3 linked regions of the Homo sapiens genome follow. The protein of the gene in region 2 purifies or fractionates together with the protein of the main gene of each other region. This does not show direct contact. Each region holds a gene or a part of one and is shown on either strand. Other genes may lie near its edges.

What was found. Proteins that work in one complex are often made in the same cells at the same time.
Region 1: the proteins of MAP7D2 (region 2) and LONP2 purify together in Homo sapiens (affinity purification with mass spectrometry; 2 studies listed by BioGRID and IntAct, with this or other methods). This does not show direct contact.
Region 3: the proteins of MAP7D2 (region 2) and ECI2 purify together in Homo sapiens (affinity purification with mass spectrometry; 2 studies listed by BioGRID and IntAct, with this or other methods). This does not show direct contact.

The regions. Positions count from the first base shown.
Region 1 is NC_000016.10:48,345,272-48,352,299, reverse strand, and holds part of LONP2 (lon protease homolog 2, peroxisomal), read right to left. Parts: exon of another isoform or gene 5,389-7,028; intron 4,794-5,388; coding exon 4,586-4,793; intron 4,201-4,585; coding exon 4,010-4,200; intron 720-4,009; coding exon 498-719; 3' UTR 1-497. UniProt on the Homo sapiens protein: ATP-dependent serine protease that mediates the selective degradation of misfolded and unassembled polypeptides in the peroxisomal matrix.
Region 2 is NC_000023.11:20,008,892-20,015,919, forward strand, and holds part of MAP7D2 (MAP7 domain-containing protein 2), read right to left. Parts: intron 6,437-7,028; coding exon 6,332-6,436; intron 4,735-6,331; coding exon 4,678-4,734; intron 4,242-4,677; coding exon 4,163-4,241; intron 3,645-4,162; coding exon 3,458-3,644; intron 2,162-3,457; coding exon 1,912-2,161; 3' UTR 1,886-1,911; intron 1-1,885. UniProt on the Homo sapiens protein: Microtubule-stabilizing protein that plays a role in the control of cell motility and neurite outgrowth via direct binding to the microtubule. Acts as a critical cofactor for kinesin transport.
Region 3 is NC_000006.12:4,118,576-4,125,603, forward strand, and holds part of ECI2 (enoyl-CoA delta isomerase 2), read right to left. Parts: exon of another isoform or gene 6,796-7,028; coding exon 6,675-6,795; exon of another isoform or gene 6,385-6,674; intron 3,472-6,384; exon of another isoform or gene 3,374-3,471; intron 701-3,373; coding exon 611-700; intron 1-610. UniProt on the Homo sapiens protein: Able to isomerize both 3-cis and 3-trans double bonds into the 2-trans form in a range of enoyl-CoA species. Has a preference for 3-trans substrates.

The sequences.
Region 1 (7,028 bases), on a different chromosome or scaffold from region 2:
TAATTGATTGGTTTCAGGATCCAATAAACTCTACAGGTAAATCCACTAAGGTAATGGTCTATACCGGTGGTTCCTGAACTTGAGTGTGCAGCAGAATTACCTGGAAGGCTTCTTAAAACACAGATTTCTGTCCCCACCTCCCAGGATTTGATTCAGGCGGCCTGCTGTGGAGCCTGAGAATGTACATTTCTAACAAGTTACCAGGTACTACAGATGCTTCTGTTCTGGAGACTGTGCTGAGAACCACTATGCTATATCTTTCCAGGGACAGTAAGGATCCCACTAAAAAGACAAGAATTCGATTTTTATCAGTTTACTAAATCAACATCTTATATTTCTATACTAAACACTAGCCACTACTTGAGGTTTATTACTGTTGTGATTATGTTTATAAAACAGGGACATCTTGCATACCCCTAATGGTGTGAATAAAATCAACTGTGTCAGTACCTTTGAGCACTTCATAACTTAAAATTCTAAAAAATTGAGATTTGGACCTACAGTTTGCTATTTAACAGACCAGGTCTGGTCTTGACAGTAAAGCCACCATCAAAAGCTGCATTAAGAACCTCATCCAGGCAGCTTGCTGTGACAAAACTTAAATCCTGTCGTACGTTGCCTGGGATTCCCTCAAGGTCTTTTTCATTTCTCCGAGGAATAATGACTTGCTTCAGTCCCGCTCTGTGTGCCGCCAGCACTTTGTCTTTAATTCCACCCACCTGTAAGGAGAGAAAAAAGTTTTTAGGGTTAATGATCACCCTCAAGCTGAAAGAAACCCTGACCCAGCTTTCTTTCACTGAATTTAACCACTACTATTTTAAAACATCCAAATCATCTTCCGTTTTGTTATAGCATGAGCTAGGAAAGCCAGGAAAAAGGATAAGTAGTAACCTTTTTTTAATGTTTCAATTGGTGTTATATTAAAGACTCTGATGAGGGGGATTCTAAATTGTTGATAGGTATGAGTTCCTCTTCTGTCAATGATTGTTTTTATAAATGCTGTCAAAGTAAATTGGCATTCAGGTGTAATCACAACCGTCTAGTCTTTAGGTTGATCTGAAAAAGCAGCACGTGATTCTGACCATGAGCGCCGCTCCTGCAGAGCTTAGCTGTGTGCTGGGGTTACTTCCCTCTCTACAGGTTTAAAGCCAGAACCTCCATGCTGGTTAATGAAGAAAATGTATCCCTAAACTAGGCTCCTATGGTGGCTTTCAAACATGTCTACAATGGTCCCCCTGCTTGAATGTGGGCCAGGCTTTGTGACTCGGTAAGAAACAGAGTGTGGTGGGAGTGATGCTGTATGATCTCCACGGCTGAGTCACAAAAAACGAGAGCTGCTGCCTGAATCTCTCTTGATCACCTGCCCTGGAGGTGGCCAGTCATAATGTCTGAGGTCACTCAAGCAGCCTATGGGCAAGTCCATCAGGTGAGGAACTGGGGCCTCCTGCCACTAGATGGGACCAATTTGCCAGTCACATGAGTCAACCACCATGGAAGCAGTTTCTCCAGCCTGTCAGCCTTCATGTGACTGCAGCCTGGCTGGAACCTAGACTGTAAGGCCAGAGACCCTGGGCCACAAGAACCCAGCTCAGCCTCTCCTGAATTCCTGGCCCACAGGAACTTGAAGAGTATGGAGTATTCTTGCTTTGGGGTAATGTGTTGCATCTGCTCCAATTAAGACTGGCTGGCTGCTCCAGGCCTTCCCGCCCCACTGGCATCTTCTTTCAAGGTTTTGTTCATGCTGCTGAAGTACTCCTTCAAAGTACCTTCTTCAAAAGAGTGTAAGATGAACTGATTCCTTGCATGTTTGAAAATATTTTACTTTCACACTTGATTGATACTAAGGCCATGTATACAAGACTAGATGTAAAACATTTTCCCTCACAGCTTTCATTACTATTTTTTTTTTTTTTGAGACAGTCTTACTCTGTCACCCAAGCTAGAGTGCAGTGGCACAATCTTGGCTCACTGCAACTTTCTGCCTCCCAGGTTCAAGCGATTCTCCTGCCTCAGCCTCCTGAGTAGCTGGGATTACAGGCATGCGCCACCACATCCGGATAATTTTTTTGTATTTTTAGTAGAGACAGGGTTTCACCATGTTGGCCAGGCTGGTCTCAAACTCCTAACCTCAAGTGATACGCCCACCTTGGCCTCCCAAAGTGTTGGAGTTACAGGCGTGAGCCACCACACCCAGCCTCCTTACTATTTTTAAAACAATTTTTGTAGAGATATATTTCCCAGGCTGGTCTTGAACTCCTGGACTTGAGCTATCCTCCTGTTTAGCCTCCCAAAGTGCTGGGATTACAGACGTCAGCTGCCACGCCTGGCCCATTTTCCCTCATAGTTTTGAAGGTACTGCACATCCAGTGTCAGTGCTGAGGCCGCTTTATCCTCAGTAATCTGAAAAGTCAAGGGGATGAAATGTTTTTCCTGGTTAGTAATGGTCCTTTCGATCTCAAGATGCCTTAACTTCTAGGAAATGTTCAGTTATTTCTTGGATAATTTGTTCCATTCCATTTTCCTGTTTGTTAGAACTCCTTTTAGATGTTGGAGTTCTAACAACAAATTGTTTTTCACTATAGTTTTTTCCTGAATAATTCTTTGACCACTTTCAAATCCCAAAGCCCCGTCTTGTCCTCTGTTCTCAAAGGAGGTTTTCTCCAGCTTTCACAGGCCTTTCTTTCAAGTGCTGCTGCTTTCCATCCTGCCTCTTGTAATGGTCTGGAGCTGAAGGTGTACCCCAGGCCGCTGTGGCTGTCTCTCCTGAGGCTGCAGAAGCCTTTACTTGGGCTACGATTTGCTCTGAGAGGGGACCAAGTAGAAAACCCATTTGTTCTATGGAGGTTCTAAAAATAGAAAAAATTATCCGGGCGTGGTGGCGCATGCTTGTAATCCCAGCTAGTTGAGAGACTGAGGCAGGAGAATCACTTCAACTTGGGAGGCAGAGGTTGCAGTGAGCCAAGATTGTGCCACTGTACTCCAACCTGGGTAAGAGAGCCGGACTCCATCTCGATAGAAAAAAGAAAAAAAGACTATTTCTTTTTTTTTTTCCTCATCTTGCTATGAACCTGCCAAAATCTTGTTGTGGACTAAAATTGTAGTCTAGTCTGTTGTAGACTAATACTCAACTAACAACTTTAAATACTCTCAAGTTCTGTACATTTTATCACACTATTTTTATAAGCAGTTTAGGATCTGGAGCCTCAAGACCCCACATGTATAGAACCTTTTCAAAATGTAGTCATTAGATATGGTTAATCTTTATTAGAGTTTCCATTCTATACTAGCAAAGTTTTCTGCAGGGGGACAGGAGGTCTCAAAGAAACTTCAAATTTAAGAAATGGGCTTAAAGCTTAAAAACAACTACTATCCCATTTTGCACATGTGCTATATCTTTAACAATTTGTCAAGTAGAACAAGGCCTCAAATTTTCATGTAACTGCCAATATTTCTGATGACCACACTAATATTTTTTTCCCTTAGCAAATCTTAGAATGGGAAACGTGGGCTGAATGTGGTGGCTCACGCCTGTAATCCCAGCACTTTGGGAGGTGGAGATGAGAGGACTGCATGAGACCTGGAGTTTGAGACAAGCCTGGACAACACAGAGAGACCCTGTCTCTACGCAAAATAAAATAAATTAGCTGAGCATGGTGGCGTGCTCCTATAGTCCCAGCTATTCGGGAGATAGACAGGAGGATCGCTTGAGCCCAGGACTTGGTGGCTATAGTGAGCTACAGTCACACCACTGCACTCCAGCCTGGGCAACAGAGTGAGACCTGTCTATTTCAAAAAAAAAAAAAAAAAAAAAAGGAAAATGTGAAAAATTGTCAGTTTTTCTTTTATTTGATCAAAATTTTAAAATATGAATTAGTTACAGGCATAAAAATATAATATATACTTAAAACCAAGGTTTTCATAGAAAGAAGGCAAACCCGTATTTAAAAATAATATTAATTTTCAAAAATTAAATAAAAAATAACCATATAAATTGTTTTTTCATACTTACTGGAAGAACAAGACCTCTCAGTGTAATTTCTCCAGTCATGGCTACATCTGAACGTACCAGCCGCCCACTAAAAAGTGAGGCGAGACAGGTTACTATGGTAACTCCAGCAGATGGTCCATCTTTTGTGACAGCTCCAGCTGGGAAGTGCAGATGGATGTCTGTGTTGTCAAGAAGATCAAAACTTCCAAAAGCTTTAAAAAGGAAAAAGGGACTTTAATGTAGAAAAATTAAACCTGTTTTCTTTTTCTCCTAAAAAAAAAGTCACAAACAAAAATGAATGTTTTGGGTAAATGAATTCTTCAAAATATTGGTGGACAGTACAATTTGGGTGAGGGTGTGGAAGAACAGTTCCATTCTACTCTAAGTCGTATTAAAACAAAATAAACCTTTTGAATTAGTTTCTAGTTCAGGCACTAGTCAAATAGTCCTGAAATGGGAACTAGGATTTCCACAGGGGTTCAAAACGGTGTGTACTTTGCTAGATGTGTAACTGGCAGTCTCGAGCTCATGCCAGTCTCCGCCATGGAAGGTACCGCCTCCTGGGTCACGCCTGCCTGGCCGGGTGCAGGCTCCTACCATTGGTCAGCTGGTACTTCTTTGCGTTGCTGCGGAGCCAGCTGATAGCGAGGTGGGCGGACTCCTTCATCACGTCCCCGAGCTGGCCGGTCAGAGTTAACTGGCCCTCGCCATCCATTCGACTCGCCTCCACGAACATGATTTCTCCACCTAAGGGAGTCCAAGCCAAACCTATTGCTACTCCTGGCTGACTCAAACGCTGAGATACCTTGAAAGAAGAAGAATGATCAGAGTTGGGTTGGCAAATGCTAAAGGTGACTGATACCACACAATCCTGCAAGAGTCGGCTGACTCCACAGAAGACTTCAGCCACTTACCTCAAAGTCCTTGTTACCTAACATGATTCTGCGTCACATTCAGCACTTACTCTCTGGCTTTCTGCCAGAAGAAAGACCTAAACTTCCTCTTTGACATTTATCAGAGGCAATTTTACCTTAAAATATATGTAAATAACTTTGCTTTTTATGAGCCAGATCTAGCTACACATGCCCTAGTTTTCAAGGAATAAACCCAATAGTTTTATCTAAGTATCTTTATTGGGCTGCAAATATATATATATTTTGAGACAGTCTCACTCCATTGCCCAGGCTTGAAGTACAGTGACACAATTTCAGCTCACTGAAAACTCTGCCTCCTGGCTTCAAGTGATTCTCCTGCCTCTGCCTCCCAAGTGGCTGGTACTATGGGCGCACACAGGCCACCACACCCGCTAATTTTTGTATTTTTTGTAGAGATGTGGTCTCACCATGTTGGCCAGACTGGTCTCAAACTCCTGACCTCAAGTGATCTGCCTGCCTCAGCCTCCCAAAGTGCTGGGATTACAGGTGTGAGCCACCACACCCAGCCTATTGGGCTGCATATTTATATATACTTCATAACCTAGCTTCATTTTAGGTAATCATGAATTTGTTTCAAAAAGTAGAAACCCTCTTACTAGCAGACCTTTAAGAAGAGTGAGCTTGGCCATGCAGAGTGGCTCATGCCTGTAATCCTAGCACTTTGGGAGGCTGAGACGACAGGATCGCTTGAGCCCAGGAGTTCGATAGAGACCAGTGTGGGCAACATGGTGAGACCCTCTTATTTTTTTTGAAAAGAAAAGTGAGAAGGGTTATATTAGAAACTCTAGATTTTACTTCTCCACCGCTTACCTTTAACTTTCTCTATTACTGCTGCAGAGACTATACAATACTACATAATAAACATCCTGGGTTCCTTCCCATGGGATGAGAGAGGTCCACTGTACTGCCTGCCATCTTAAATTGAACATGTTGTCACCTGAGACTAGGAGCATAGTTGATGGGCCATAGGTTAACACATCCAAGTTATGAAAACACTAAAAAGTAACAGTGGAAAATCAGTAATGTTAACTCTCATTACACCCTTTGAGCTTCAAAATTTCCTATCCAATAGAAGTTACTCATGTTAGAGGAACTGAACACAATAGGTCAACTAAGCACTAATCCAAACAGGAGATTTTTCTACTGAGAGTTGACCGTCTCACTAAGGAACAGCACTATACAGCTTGACTTTCTGGGTATGGGGCTGGGTTGCTTCTTTTTCTAAGGGGCTTGGACAATGAAATTCCTGATTGTAAAAATTATTCCAAAATTATGTGGCATCCATTGAAGCTATTGGGCACTTCTTTTCCTCTTTTTTTTTTTTTTTTTTTTGAGACATGAGTCTCACTCTGTCGCCTGGGCTGGAGTGCAATGGCACAATCTTGGCTCAATGCAACCTCCGCCTCCTGGGTTCAAGCAGTTCTCCTGCCTCAGGCTCCGAGTAGCTGGGATTACAGGCATGTATCACCACACCCAGCTAATTTTTGTATTTTTAATAGAGACAGTGTTTCGCCATGTTGGCCAGGCTGGTCTCAAACTCCTGACTTCAGGTGATCTGCCAGCCTCGGCCTCCCAAAGTGCTGGGATTACAGGCGTGAGCCTCTGCGTCTGGCCGAGCACTTATTTTCAGTAGTAAACATACATTAAAAAAAATTAATCCTAATTAACTTCATTTAACAGGTTAGAGATTTGAGAGGCCAAACTCCAGCATCAAGCTGACAGCATGTACCTCAGGTCACACTTTCCTCGAGCTTTGCCACTTGCCCTGTTCTATACTAACTTGAGGCGAAAGACACAAACGATCTATATGTAAGAGATCAGTACTACTTAAGGAAAATCATGAAACAGTTATTTATAAAACTGTTTACAAGGTTTGTTTTTTCTAATATAAAATCAATTCTCTATACCTGAATGACATACATCTAATTTGTGTGGGAATCTGTCACCCAAATTAGACTTCATTCAGGCTCCTTTCTAGGGTTGGGTGAATGAATCGTGTTTAACACAAAAAGTCATTTGGTACAATTTTGTTAACTCTACCAAGAATAATCCCTTTCTTATATTTGAATCCTCACAATTCATTTGTCAAAATAATACCAAAAGTA
Region 2 (7,028 bases):
GAATACTCTAATAAATTTTGTGGATTCTCTGTTCCTTACTGTATAGTGAGGTAAGTGAACTGAAGGGAAACTAATTTTAAAGTCAAAGTATGTTAAAAACACAAAAAACCTCTTAATAAATATTAAGCCACGTAACTGTCAGGGAAATAGAATGCTCAGGTGATTTAGTGTTTTAAGTGTCCAAGAAGGCAGCTGCTTTTCCAAACCAGTGATACAGTTTACTCTAAAAGTGACCCACCACACACCAAGAACCAAGAGAAATGGGCTCTCAAACTTGTCTTATAGGCAAGAGCTGAGGTCAGGTAGAAACAAGTATACAAAAAACACAGTGACCTCAGCTCTGTAGCCTCTCCCACCTGTTTCCTCATTTGAAAAATAAAAACACTGGACTGTTATTTTGGCCAGTGAATTTGTTATGGGAGTGAAGTATAAAAAATAAAGTGACTGAGAAAATGCCGAGAATATAAAAATGCTTTTAAGAATCTAAAATGGCCGGGCGCGGTGGCTCACGCCTGTAATCCTAGCACTTTGGGAAGCCAAGGCAGGCAGATTACCTGAGCTCAGGAGTTCGAGACCAGCTTGGGCAACACAGTGAAACCCTGTCTCTACTAAAATACAAAAAATTAGCCAGGCATGGCGGCGTGCACCTGTAGTCCCAGCTACTCGGGAGGCTGAGGCAGGAGAATGGCTTGAACCTGGGAGGTAGAAGTGGCTGTGAGTGGAGATCATGCCACTGCACTCCAGCCTGGGTGACAGAGTGAGATTCCATCTCAAAAAAAAAAAAAAAAAAAAAAAAAGAATCTAAAATGGATAAATGGATGCAAGGCATGGTAGCTCATGGCTGTAATCCCAGTAAGTACTTGGGAGGCCAAGGAGAGAGGATCACTTGAGGCCAGGGGTTCAAGACCAGCCGGGCAACATAGCAAGACCCAACCTCTACAAAAACTAAAAAAAATTAGCTGGGCCTGGTGGCATGTGCCTATGATCCAACTACTCAGGAGGCTGAGGCAAGGGGATCTCCTGAGCCCAGGAGTTTGAAGTCTCAGTGAGCTGTGATTGCGCCACTGCACACCAGCCTGGACAACAGAGTGAGATCACTTCTCTTGAAAACAAAAACAGAATCTGAAGTGGGAGGAGCAATTGGAATTATTAAATTATTAAAGGATTTGGTGACAGACTCTAATTATGTTTTCCTTATTCAAAAACAAGCCCCAAACTGAAGTAAATAAAATGTGAGGTATATGTAACTAAGTATACCTTACTACAGAGTGTATATAACTCATAGACATTCTTGCTCAAATGAGAATAGCTTCTGGAAGCACTTTGGCAAAAATAAAAAAAGGCCAAAGGTGGGGAAAAAACCTTCAAGACACAAAAACTGCAGTTCTCTCTCCCTCAGGTATGATCCAAGAATAGCTGTCTGCTTTGGAAGAATCCAGAATGGGTCAAGAGAATAGCAAATCCTGTGGCCCTGTATATGAATGATTCTAGATAGAATGTGGGATGTCACTGAGCAAAACTAGAGGTGGGGAAATTCATCTTATTCATATCACCTTGCAACACTACTAGAGTATTCTTTCCTTGCCCCCTAAAAAAGCTACTCAGGCTGGACTGGTAGTCAAACCTTTAGCCAGTGTTCTCAACTTTCCCATCTACACACCCTAAATAGCAGGGTTAGGACAAGGCGGCTCGGCGCTGAAGGCTCGCAGATGAATTAATTGAAATCTGTCTCAATTCTTGTGTGTGTTGTAGTATACCATAATATATTCATGTTTGCGTTTTTCAAATAAAATTTGACCATCCAAGAGGCTGAGTGATATACATCCTATCTTCACAAACCCCAGTTAAAGGGTTATGAAGTTAGAATATAATCAAAAGACTGTACCTTTTATTAAAGGGATGCTGTATTTGTCAACAGAAGGTGTTGAGAGGAGTTTCTTGGCCAGGACTGTTAAATCCTTCGATAAGGTTTTTGTTACAGTCGTCCAGGCTGAGATTTTCACTGGATCTCTTGGGGAATGTCGGGGGACCAGTGAAATCTAAGAGATCTTGAAGTGCTCGGGCATTACCAGTTCCATTTTGGTCCAGAGACACCCCAGGAATCATTTCACTCACTGGTGAAAATTCCGGGATAGAGATAAGCTCTTCTTTTGAAACAGGACTAGAAGAGATGAACGAGAGGGAGAGAGGCAGAAAGAGACAGACAGACAACATGGCACAATATATTAATTCTATTTGCAATATTTTGTTTTACTACTCTTCTAAAGAAGAAGGATTTAGAGTCAGAGTTTTTGTGTAACACACTGTAAAAAATACAAGTGGGCTCAAATCTGAGGAGGACAGATGGTGGACACGAGGCCCCATGTATGAGAACAGGGAAGCAGATTGAGCAGGGCTGTGATGGCCAAGGTCACATTGCCCAAAGGGTGAAAGGACAAAAACCCACAGGCACCAGCATTCTACCACAAAGAAGCAAGGCATTCCAGAACTTTCTAAATGGGACATTCAGACAGAAAGCCAATGCCAAAAGTTCAAAGCAAGTTGAAGAAGAACCCTAATTAACAGTGGGGCTCCCAGTGCTGCCTTTCTAGTAGTGCCACCTTGGGCGAATTGCTTTTCCTTCCTGCAGCCTCAGTTTCTTCGCCAGTAAAATGGGAACAATTGTTTCTCTCTGCCAGGGCTCCTGTGAGTGTGAATCTGATCGTGCTGAGAAGAGTTCATGTGGAAACGCCTGAAGTGCTCAGTTAAGGTTGGGGGGCCCATAATGAAAGGATCCCACCACAGCCCACGTCATCACTGGCAAAGCCAATCTCACGCTCTGCTTCCTCTCTAAAGTGAGGCTTCCAATCCACTCTGACTTATCCAGCTCCAGCCCAGCCAAGGCTGGTTTTCTTTCTCTCTCTCTCTTCCTCTCCCTAGAGATGGAAGGAGGAGTTTCATAATTGCGCCAGCTGTAAGGCCTAGCAAAGGAACAAATCCAGGCTCTGAAGAGTGGTGGGCTGAGGGCCTGTCACCAGGAATCTCTTAACAGCCAGAGTAAAGCTGCTGCCAGGTTCTTCTTTTTCTTCCTTGTGAGATCTTAGAGAAGAATCTAGAAAAACCAGAACTGCAGAAGCTCAGAGGAACTGTCTCTGGTGGAAATTCATCCTCCAGAGCTCCCATGGGGTCAGCTGAGAAGGCATCCTTGCTTAGCGAATTCCCTCCTTCCCCTTTCTCCTGAAAAACTCCCAAGAGCTTTCCTCTAACAAATCACATGCCCTAGAAACTCTGTTCCAGGCTCTGCTTCTAGGGAACCTGACGCAAGACACTAGAATGTTATACCACTGAGAGCTTTCCTGTAATGTCAATCAAACCTGCTTTAGGTGATTTGGTTGTATAAAAGACGAAGAAACCAACTAAAAGAAAGGGTAGTGTTTCGAGAAGTGATGAGGCTTAAATGCAAAAGAAATGAATATACCTCACATCCATAGACTGAACTTCTTCAGTTGAATCATCCAGGCTATTTGATTTCCCATCAAGGGCATCCAGATGAATGAGTCCCCCAGCTGGCTTAAGCCCATTAGAGAAAATGTCTTGGGGATAAGTTTCTGGGGCAGCGTGATCCACACCATTAACTTCCTGGCAGGTGTTCAATCCATTGATTTCTGATCGAGAACACAAAGTCCCTTGTGTTAATCATAAAATGTCTAAATAAAGTAACAGAGAAATATAGATCAAGGCAATTAATTTAATGCTCTGCTTCACTGATACTGCAGCATCTTTTGTGGAAAGAGCCACAAATAAACCCATATAATCACCTTCACACAGGAGAAGAGAAGACAAATCACATTATCAGTGTCTGTGCAGAACCTCTGGAGAAGAGCAGAGTCAGGTCCTAACAGTAATAAAACCTGACCAGCAGTTAAGCTCCCTGGAAAGCACTGTGAGCCAGCAGCCAGAGTGCCTCCTATGCTGGGATTATGGGAGTAACCAAGGAACCCAGTGGGTTCCCAAGTGGAGCTGACAGTCCCTGTGCTGGAGACACATTCCCAGGGAAGGGAAACTGCACAGGCCCCTGCCAGCAGTCACCCTCTTGGGATCCATGGGTCTGTTTACCCTACACCAAGTCTTACGAGCTTTTGCTACTAAAAGGAAGAACCCAAGAACCAGATGTCACACTCACCCATTTTGTTGGGGACAACCAGTTTTGTCTTCTTTTCCACACACACAGCAGGCTGGACCCCCACTTTGGGGTCTTCTTTCTGAAAACAAATGGAAGGTGAATGAAATGAGGGAAGGCTGACATCACACAGAAAAAAAGTACTTTTTAAAAGCATCCGATGATATTTTGAGCCTGGACCATCTGCCTGTTCTGTGGTAATTCTTTAAATCTTCAGCTGTGTTTCCCTTATTCTTACGTATTTTTATGTCAGGATTCTCTTTTTTATTCATGGACTACTATGCCTCTCTCTTCATCCCACCTCCCATGACTCTAAGGAAATCTCTTACCCATCCCACCTCTGAAGCCCCTCTTTCTTTTCAGGTACCTAACCCTCCTTAACCTAGCCAGGAACAAAGCAGGAAAACTGCATTTTTTTCTGGCTAATCGTCGCCAAGACCTACAATTTCACTGAGTGTATTCTGCTGTTCTTTTCTACTTAGTACATAAACTATTAAAATGGTCATTTGAATTCCTACCTTCACTTGTGGAGACACATCACTTTTCCTTGTTCTCTTCATGATTTCATCTATTCTCTAAAAACAAAAAACAAAAAACAAAATCAAGTAAGAGGACAATAAGACCAAAAACATAAAAGTAGCTTGGTTTACATGCAATGTCACATTTCTCAGAAAACTTGTAAAAGGCAAAAGTCAGAAGAGGATAACAAGTATAGAAAGGTTTTCCACTAGTTTTGGAGATGTACACCTCCGGCCCCATGGACAAGGTCAAATGCTTGAGAAGTTAACTAGTACGTATCTAGAATCAATATTCGATTTATATCCCATATTTCTCCTTCTTCTCCTTAGGCTCTGTATAAATCAACAAATTACCACCTGCCATTAAAGAGCACCACCCTACAGAAAGTGAGGCTGAGGCTGAGGTGCATCTCAGGAGAGAAGGCCACAGGCTGGTCTCCTGGATCCCAGGCCTACAGCAATACAAAGCCCAGGTTGGGCCTAGGACACCATGAGAATACTCCTTTATAATCAGTCTGCTTAAACCCAATTTTACCCATAAGTATAGTTAGTGTAAATGGACTAAACACTCCAATTAAAAGACAAAGACTGTCAAACAGAATTAAAATAACAATTCCTGGCTATATGCTCTTTACTTATAAAAACACACAGAAGAAGTTTTAAGTAGAAGGGTGAAAAAGATTTGACATACAGACACTAATCATAAAAGGGCTGTCAGGCCAAGCACAGTGGCTCACGTCTATAATCCCAGCACTTTGGAAGGCCGAGGCAGGAGGATCCCTTGAGTCCAGGAGTTCGAGACCAGCCTGGCCAACATGGTGAAATCCCATCTCTACTAAAAATACAAAAATTAGCCAGGTGTGGTGGTGTGCGCCTGTAATCCCAGCTAGTTGGGAGGCTGAGGCAGGAGAATCGCTTGAACCTGGGAGGTGGAGGTTGTGGTGAGCCGAGATCACACCACTGCACTCCAGCATGGGCAATAGAGTGAGACTGTCTCAAAAAAATAAAAGGCAGGGGGCTGTCAAAGTAGACTTTAAGACAAGAAATATCACTAGAGACAAAGGCATATCACGATAAATATATATAAAACAAAACCTGACAGAACTGAAAGGAAAAATGGACAAATCCATAATCACAGATGGAGTTATTCTTTTTTCTATTATTTGGGACAGGGTCTCACTCCTGTTCCCCAGGCTGGACTGCAGTGGCATGATCTCGGCTCACTGCAGGCTTAACTTCCCGAGTTCAGGTCATCTTCCCACCTCAACCTCCTACGTAGCTGGGACTACAGACACATGCCATCACACCCAGCTATTTTTTGTATTTTTAGTAGAGACAGGGTTTCACTGTATTACTCAAGCTGGTCTGGAACTTCTGGGCTCAAGTGATCCTCCCGCCTCTGCCTCCCTAAATGCTGGGATTACAGGTGTGAGCCACCATGCCTCGCTACAGATGGAGTTTTTAACAATCTTTCTCAATCACTGATGGAACGAGATGGCAAAAAACTAATAAAGACATAAAAGATTTGAACAGTGGTATCAATGAACTTGACCTAACTGACAATCCTAGGATCATTCTATCCAATCACTGCAGAAGAGAACTGGATTTACTTCCTGTTCACTTACCCTAGGTCTTCCTGACCCTCAGCCCTTACCTTCTTTCTCTCCAGTCTCTCCTGCTCAATCTGCAGCATAATCTGTTCTCTCTCGAGACGCATCTGTTCAGCTACCTCCCGGGCCTTTGTTTCTGCTGCTTCTTTCTAACAGAAACAGGTAAATCAAGGCAAAGCTTTAATAAGCTAAGAAAACAGTGTGGTAATTCCCTGGCTTTGCACATGTTCCTTCATCTCATCATCTGCCCTAAAGTGGATGCTGCTCCAATATTCAATGTGGATTTATACAAACCACTGCATGACACAGCAAACATGGTTGGACCTCATTCATATACCCCTGGCTCACCATGCAAATCACCTGCAGACAGTTCTCACACATGGCCAAGGCTTTTCTGTGTCTGTGGGCAGGCTTGGGCCATGAAGTGTGCATGTGGCCAGATCAGAGAGTTAATTCCCCAGGGAGTGACCTTCTACTACCGTGAAGGGCAGGATGTGGTAGATAAGTAGTTCAGTTTCCTCATCCCTCAGCTGGACAATTCTAAAGCATGATCCACAGTCTGTCAGAGGTTCCCAATGGGACTGTGTTCCAGTCACCCACAGTAACACATGCATCAATGCACTTACATTGGCTTTTCTCCTATTCCTCTACCAGCTTCCTGGGATTCGCTTGCAAAAAAAACTGCTGGCACTCAAATTCTTAGCCCAGGGTTTGCCTTTGGGGAAACCCTAACTCACAGAT
Region 3 (7,028 bases), on a different chromosome or scaffold from region 2:
GAGTCATGCCACAGGGCGTGGGCAACTAGGAAACACAGTGAAAGACCTGAGCAGCCACTTAACCAGCCTGGGAGAGAATACACCCGTGAGCAGGCTGATGGAAGGGCTGCTGTGATTGGGGGTGGCTCTGGCAGCCGTGAGCCCCCACAAAACCTCCCATCTGTTGGTACTTACTGTAACTCTGAAAGTGAAGACGTCATCATGTCTCTCCTTAGGAGATACTGGTCATCCATAAAGGAACCGAGTGGCCTCCAAACTCAGGGGACCAAGGGAGGCTGGCACAGCCCTGGTCCTTCAAGTGACTAATGCCACACAGCTGCAAGGCTGAGGTGCTGTGCTGCTTGCAGTGCAGCTAGCACTAAGCAGCCAGCTGAAGAGGAGGATCCCAGTTCTGGGAACTGCAGAGAGAATTTCTAATTTTCCTGCATAGCAGATACTTCCCATAGCCTGATTCCTCCATTGGTAAAACTCTTAAAGAGTTGAAAAGCAAATCATTAGCTTCTCTTTTGTCCATATTACCAAGGGAAAGAAGGGAGAGTATATGAGATTACTCTTCCTTCTTTCTTGAGATGACTCATAAAATTTTATATTTAAACATTCCAAAAGTTACCTTGGCTGGGCTCATTATCTTCGGAAAAGTGTAAGAGGAGCATCCTTCCGGACTTTGGCCTAGGTGACTAAATGGTGTATGAAATGTTGCCTGCAGAGGCAGGAGAGAAAAGAAAACCATCTTTTCATGTGTGATTTTTTTTTTTTTTTTTGAGACAAAGGGTTTCGCTCTTTTGCCCAGGCTGCAGTGAAGTGGCGCGATCTCGGCTCACTGCAACCTCCACCCCTTGGGTTCAAGCGATTCTCCTGCCTCAGCCTCCACAGCAGCTACGATTACAGGCATGCGCTGCCATGCCTGGCTAATTTTTGTATTTTTCGTAGAGACGGGGTTTCGCCCTGTTGGCCAGGTTGGTTTCAAACTTCTTACCTCAGGTGATCCACCTGCCTCGGCCTCCCAAAGTGCTAGGATCACAGGCGTGAGCCACCATGCCTGGCTTCATGTGTTATTTTTAAAAATCACGATTTGCTTATAACTTCACAATACTTAATAATATTTATTTAAAAATTAAGATTATGTGGTTAATATGCACACACAATTCACCCTTTAAAAGTGTATAGTTGGATGAGTTTGAACAAATAGAGAGTTACATAGCCACCACCACTACTGACATGCGGAACATTTCAGCCACCCTGAAAGGTTCCGGGGGCCCTTCTGTAGTCAGTCCCTCCCTCCCACCCCCAAGCAACTGCTAATCTGTTTTCTGTCCCTACAGTTTTGACTTTTATAGAATGCTGTATAAGTGGAATCCTACATTCTGTAGCATTTTGAGTCTGACTTCTGAGAGTCACCATGCTGTTGTATGTATTAGTAGTTTGTTCCTCGCTATTTCTGAGTAGTATTCCTTTGTATGGATGCACAATAATATGTTTATCATTCACCAGTTAATGCCATTGGTGTTGTTTCTAGCATTCAAATGGTTGTACCATTTGACACTGCCACTAGCAACGTATGAAAGGCTACTATGAAGAAGGCTGCTATGAAAAACAAGTTGAACACCTTAAATATATCTAGTCGTGTGTTGCTTAACAATGGGGATATGTTCTGAGAAATGCATAATTAGGCAATTTTGTCATTGTGCCAATATCATGGAGTATACTTACATATACTTGGATGCCACAGCCTACTGCACACCTAGCTATGTGGTAATCCCTACTGCTTCCAGGCTACCAACTTGGACAGCATGTTACTATACTTAATACTCTAGGCAGTTATAACAAATGGCATTTGTGTATCTAAATATATCAAACATAGAAAAGGTAGGCCGGGTGTGGTGGCTCATGCCTGTAATCCCAACACTTTGGGAGGCAGAGGTGGGCAAATCACCTGAGGTCAGCAGTTCGAGACCAGCCTGGCCAACGTAGTGAAACCCCATCTCTACTAAAAATACAAAAATTAGCCTGGTGTGGTGGTGTGCACCTGGAGTCCCAGCTACTCGGGAGGCTGAGGCACAAGAATTGCTTGAACCCGGGAGGAGGAGGCTGCAGTGAGCCGAGATCATGCCACTGTACTCCAGCCTGGATGACAGAGTGAAAAAAAAAAAAGAAAAGGTATAGTAAGATATGGTGTTATAATCTTAGGAGACCAGCGTTTTACATGCAGTCTGCCATTGACTAAAATGTTGTTATGCAGCACCTGACTGTACAATTCTTATTTGTCAAGTATACCTCAATGAAACTGAAAAAAAATTTAAAAATAAAAATGTTCAGATAATGTTAACAAAAAGGCAGTTAGGAACACTTGTGTACAGGTCACTGGGTGAATCTCTTTTAAATTATCATAGGTAAATACCTAAGTGGTATGGCTGGTCTGTGTGGTAAATGTATATTTAGCTCAGAAGCTGCTAGACTGTTTTCTAGAGTGGTTGTACCATTTGACATTCCCACCAGCAATGTATGAAAGTTCCAATTGCTCCACATCCTCACTAAACCTAGCTATTAAGTCTTTTTCATTTTAACCATGCTAGTATGTATGTAGTGGGGTCTCACTGTGGTTTTAATTTACATGTCCCTAACCATTAATGGTATTAAGTCTCTTACCATGTACTTATTAGACATACGTATATTTTCTTTGGTGAAGCAACTGTTAAGATATTTTCTCCACTATTTTTTTAAGTTAGGCTGTTTACCTTCCTATTATATAGTTGTAAGATACACATTCAGATTGCAAGTCTTTTATTAGAGCGTCAGGCAAATCTTTTCTCCTGGTCTATGGCTTATCTTTTCATTTTCTCAGTGGTTTCTCTCATATGGTTTTAATAGCCCTTTATATTTCATTTTGTCTGACCTATTCATTCCTCACCATTGCCCATTTTTATTTTAGCTTGTGGATCTATCGCTTTATAGACAAACTTTAAAAAGTATCGTGGAGAGATCAGCTTTTGTTACATGAGTTGAAAAATTGTTTCCTCAATCTGTCATTTGTCTTGATTTTGCCCCAGTGGTTTTTTTGGTTGGCTTTAACTACTGGAATTAATTCAATATTGGTTATTTAGTATATAGTCATTTTTAGTTTTTTTTTTTTTTACATTTAAGACATATTTTTGTGTTTCTTAATGAATAAATTATGAAAGAATGTTAATTTAAAATTCATAATATGTAAAAGAATATTTAGATTTCATTTCCTATAATCAGACACGCTGTTGTTTTTACTATATAACTGTTAGAAGATATAAATCTATAACATATGCAGCATATACATAAAAATAATCACAATATTTTTAAAAGTTTCTGTTAATGTCATGTATCTTCTTTTTTTATCCAAAAGAAAACTTATTCAAAAAAATGTACCCAGAAGACACAGCCTAAGGAATACAAGCAGGAAACTGAGAAACCTGCCAACAACAGCTAAAGGGACACAAACAGGTACATGCAAAGTTGCCAGTAAGCAGCATTTAAAATGCTGATTTTCAGAAAGAGAGCAGCAGGTGGAGTTAAGGGTTTAGGCTCTGGCGTCAGACTACTTAGGGACGTTGGGAAAGTTTCTTACCCTCTCTGTACCACAGTTTTCTCATTTGTAAAATGGGAACCAATCCTTCTTTGCTTTTTTTTTTTTTTGAGACGGAGTCTTGCTCGGTTGCCCAGCCTTGAGTGCAGTGGCGCAATCTCAACTCGCTGCAACCTCCGCCTCCCGGGTTCAAGCGATTCTCCTGCCTCAGCCTCCCGAGCAGTTGGGATTATAGGCGTGCACCACCACACCCAGCTCATTTTTGTATTTTTAGTAGAGACGGGGCTTCACCATGTTGGCCAGGCTGGTCTCGAATTCCTGACCTCAAGTGATCCACCTGCCTTGGCCTCCCAAAGTGCTAAGATTACAGGCATGAGCCACCATGCCCAGCCTAGATTGTAAAACTTATTTTTGCCACATTGGAGGAGAATGTTTGTTTTTATAGACAGGGTCTCACTCTGTTGCCCAGCCTTACTCTTGCCTCAGCCTACCAAGTAGCTGGGACTACAGGCGCCTGCCACCACACCTGGCTAATTTTTGTATTTTTAGTAGAGAAGGGGTTTCACCACATTGGCCAGGCTGGTCTTGAACTCCCGACCTCAGGTGATCCACTTGCCCTGGCCTCCCAAAGTGCCAGGATTAGAGGCGTGAGCCACTGTGCCTGGCCAAGTCCTTCTTTCATCGGGCTACTCTGTACATTACGTGAATATGTGTGTGTGTATGCGTATATTTATAATATACATAATGCATGTGAATAGAGTGCCTAAACAGTGACCACTCAAAGATTTATTATTGTTATGATTTCTACCTTTTTCTTAACTCATACAGGAAATGTATCATTTGCTGACAGAGCTAATAGGCATTATTAACCATTGCCCACAGTATAAAATAGATTAAATGTACTGATTAATATTTTGGTTATATGGGTTAAATATTAACCCATCATTTAATATGATATTTATTCTTGAAGCCAATAATGGTAAATCTTATAAAACAATTTTTTCTACAGCCTTTTCCTTTAGCATATTTCCTTTATTTTATTTATTTTTTACTTATATATTTTTTTGAGACAGAGTCTCGCTCTGTCACCTAGGCTGGAGTGCAGTGGTACGATCTCGGCTCACTGCAACCTCTACCTCCTGGGTTCAAGCAATTCTCCTGCCTCAGCCTCCAATGTAGCTGGGATTACAGACACCCGCCACCAAGCCCGGCTAATTTTTATATTTTTAGTAGAGATGGTGTTTCACCATGTTGGCCAGGCTGGTCTTGAACTCCTGACCTCAGGTGATCTGCCCACCTCAATTTCCTTTATTTTAAATGATGCTTGATTTGTTTGGTTGGGTAAACTTTTATCAGAAGACACTATTTGACAAATAAATTTTACTTTTGGCCAAATTTTTTAGCATTTAATATATATATGCAATATACATATATTATAATATATATAGAATAGATATGTTTTATATGTATTATGTATATATGTTTTCTGATTTCAACATTTATTACAATTTATATCATAAGATGGAAGTCATCAACATTTTTAAAAGGTTGATGCAGGCCAGGCTCAGTGGCTCACACCTGTACTCCCAGCACTTCAGGAGGCCAACGCAGGCGAATCACTTGAGGTCAGGAGTTCGAGACCAGCCTGGCCGACACAGTGAAACCCTGTCTCTACTAAAAATACAAAAAAATTAGCTCGATGTGGTGGCACGCACCTGTACTACTCAGGAGGCTGAGTGGGAGAATCGCTTGAACCCGGGAGGTGGTGGCTGCAGTGAGCCAAGATCGTGCCACTGCATTCCAGCTTGGGTGACAGAGTGAGACTCCCATCTCTTAAAAAAAAAAAAATAAGGATGATGTATATTGAAAGTAATTTTCAATTCAGTGGGAGAATCAGAACAAGATTCAAATACAATATTTGCCCTCCAAGTATTAAAGAATGAGATCCCCAATTTTAGGTCAGGAACCATTGACCCAGTCCCTGTTAAAAGCAGGTCAATGACTAATCAGTCATCTAATACACAGACTGTGAACAAAGACATTGATTTCTGCCTTTGAACAGAAACCTCTACCTACAAAGGCTGGGCAGCCTGGCACCTAGAATCTCATTTGCTAATTTTGTGGGAAAATTATTCATAAGAATTAGGTCTGTCAATACATCCAATCTGGTTCAATGGAATCCAGCAAAAGAAAATTCGAAGAATTAAGGATGCTATTATATGGTCCTGTCTATCAGTGGGGAAAATACCTCTGAACAAAACTAGAAATCTCTTCAGTGGTAAAAACCATATGCTCCCTAGAAGGCTGCAATCATCAGCACAGTTTACCATCACATAAGCATAAGTCACTGGACAATCTGATACCCTAAAGGTGGTTATTAGGTGCTTGTAATGATAAAAATTGGAAACAGCCTAGGGTTCCAGCAGTCAGGGACTGGTTAAACAAGATAAGTTAATAACCCAAACGTTAGGACTGGTTATCTCTAGGTGGCAAGATAAGGAGTGATTTTTACCTTGTAGCTTTTCTTGGTACTTTTTCATATCTTTCAAAATTTTATTTTCCACTATGACATATATATTACTACTGTAGTAAAAATAAAAACTAAAATCTGTATAATGCAATGGTGAACACAAGGCTGAATTGTGTTCTGGGCAAGGAACTTCTCAGAGCTTCAGTTTTCTTATCTGCAAAGGAGGGAGTGACAGTAGATAATGCTCACAGGTCCTTCTCCTTCTAAAATTCTAAATCCATTTACTCAGTAAAAAGGATCAACTAATCCCTTGCACAACCTGCAAAGATGCTATTCCTCCCTCCCATAACAAATTTTCAAGTGTCTCCTGAATCTTTCAGAATAACATGAAAGCTGTATACCTATTGTGGAATTTGATTAGAATCCGGAACAGTCAGAGTTGGAACAATGTTCACAACAAAATGCAAGTTAATAATGAAGGAAAAATAAAATCAGTCAAATCAGCCTAATGCTTTGGGAAAAATCTAAATTCAGTTAATTCTACCACAAACAACATGTAACCTGCTTATGACTGGCAACGCTGAAGGAGGATTCAAAGGCTCTCATCTCGCGCTGCTTGCCTGACCTCTTGCTTTCTAGGAGCTGACTTACCCTGTCAGATGCATACACGGCATCGAATAGCCCAAGGAGGGTGACGGAGATGCCCACAGCTGGACCATTGACCACTGCAATCAGAGGCTTAGGAAAATCTATAAAACAGCCCACAAATTCCCTACAGAAATGGAAACACAAAATCATTAAATGTGCCAAAGCAGCATGACTAAAGCATGGGCAAGACAGTCTGACTCTGAGATAAAGCCTTCTGTCAGGCTGGGTGTTTCCACAGCCACCACCAGCAGTGCCTCCTTGTCCTGCCACTTCCCTGGTCTTCCGCACCAGATTCATCCAGGGCATCCGTCTGAATGGCAGTGGATGGAAGACCAACCAGTGAGACCTATGGGTCAA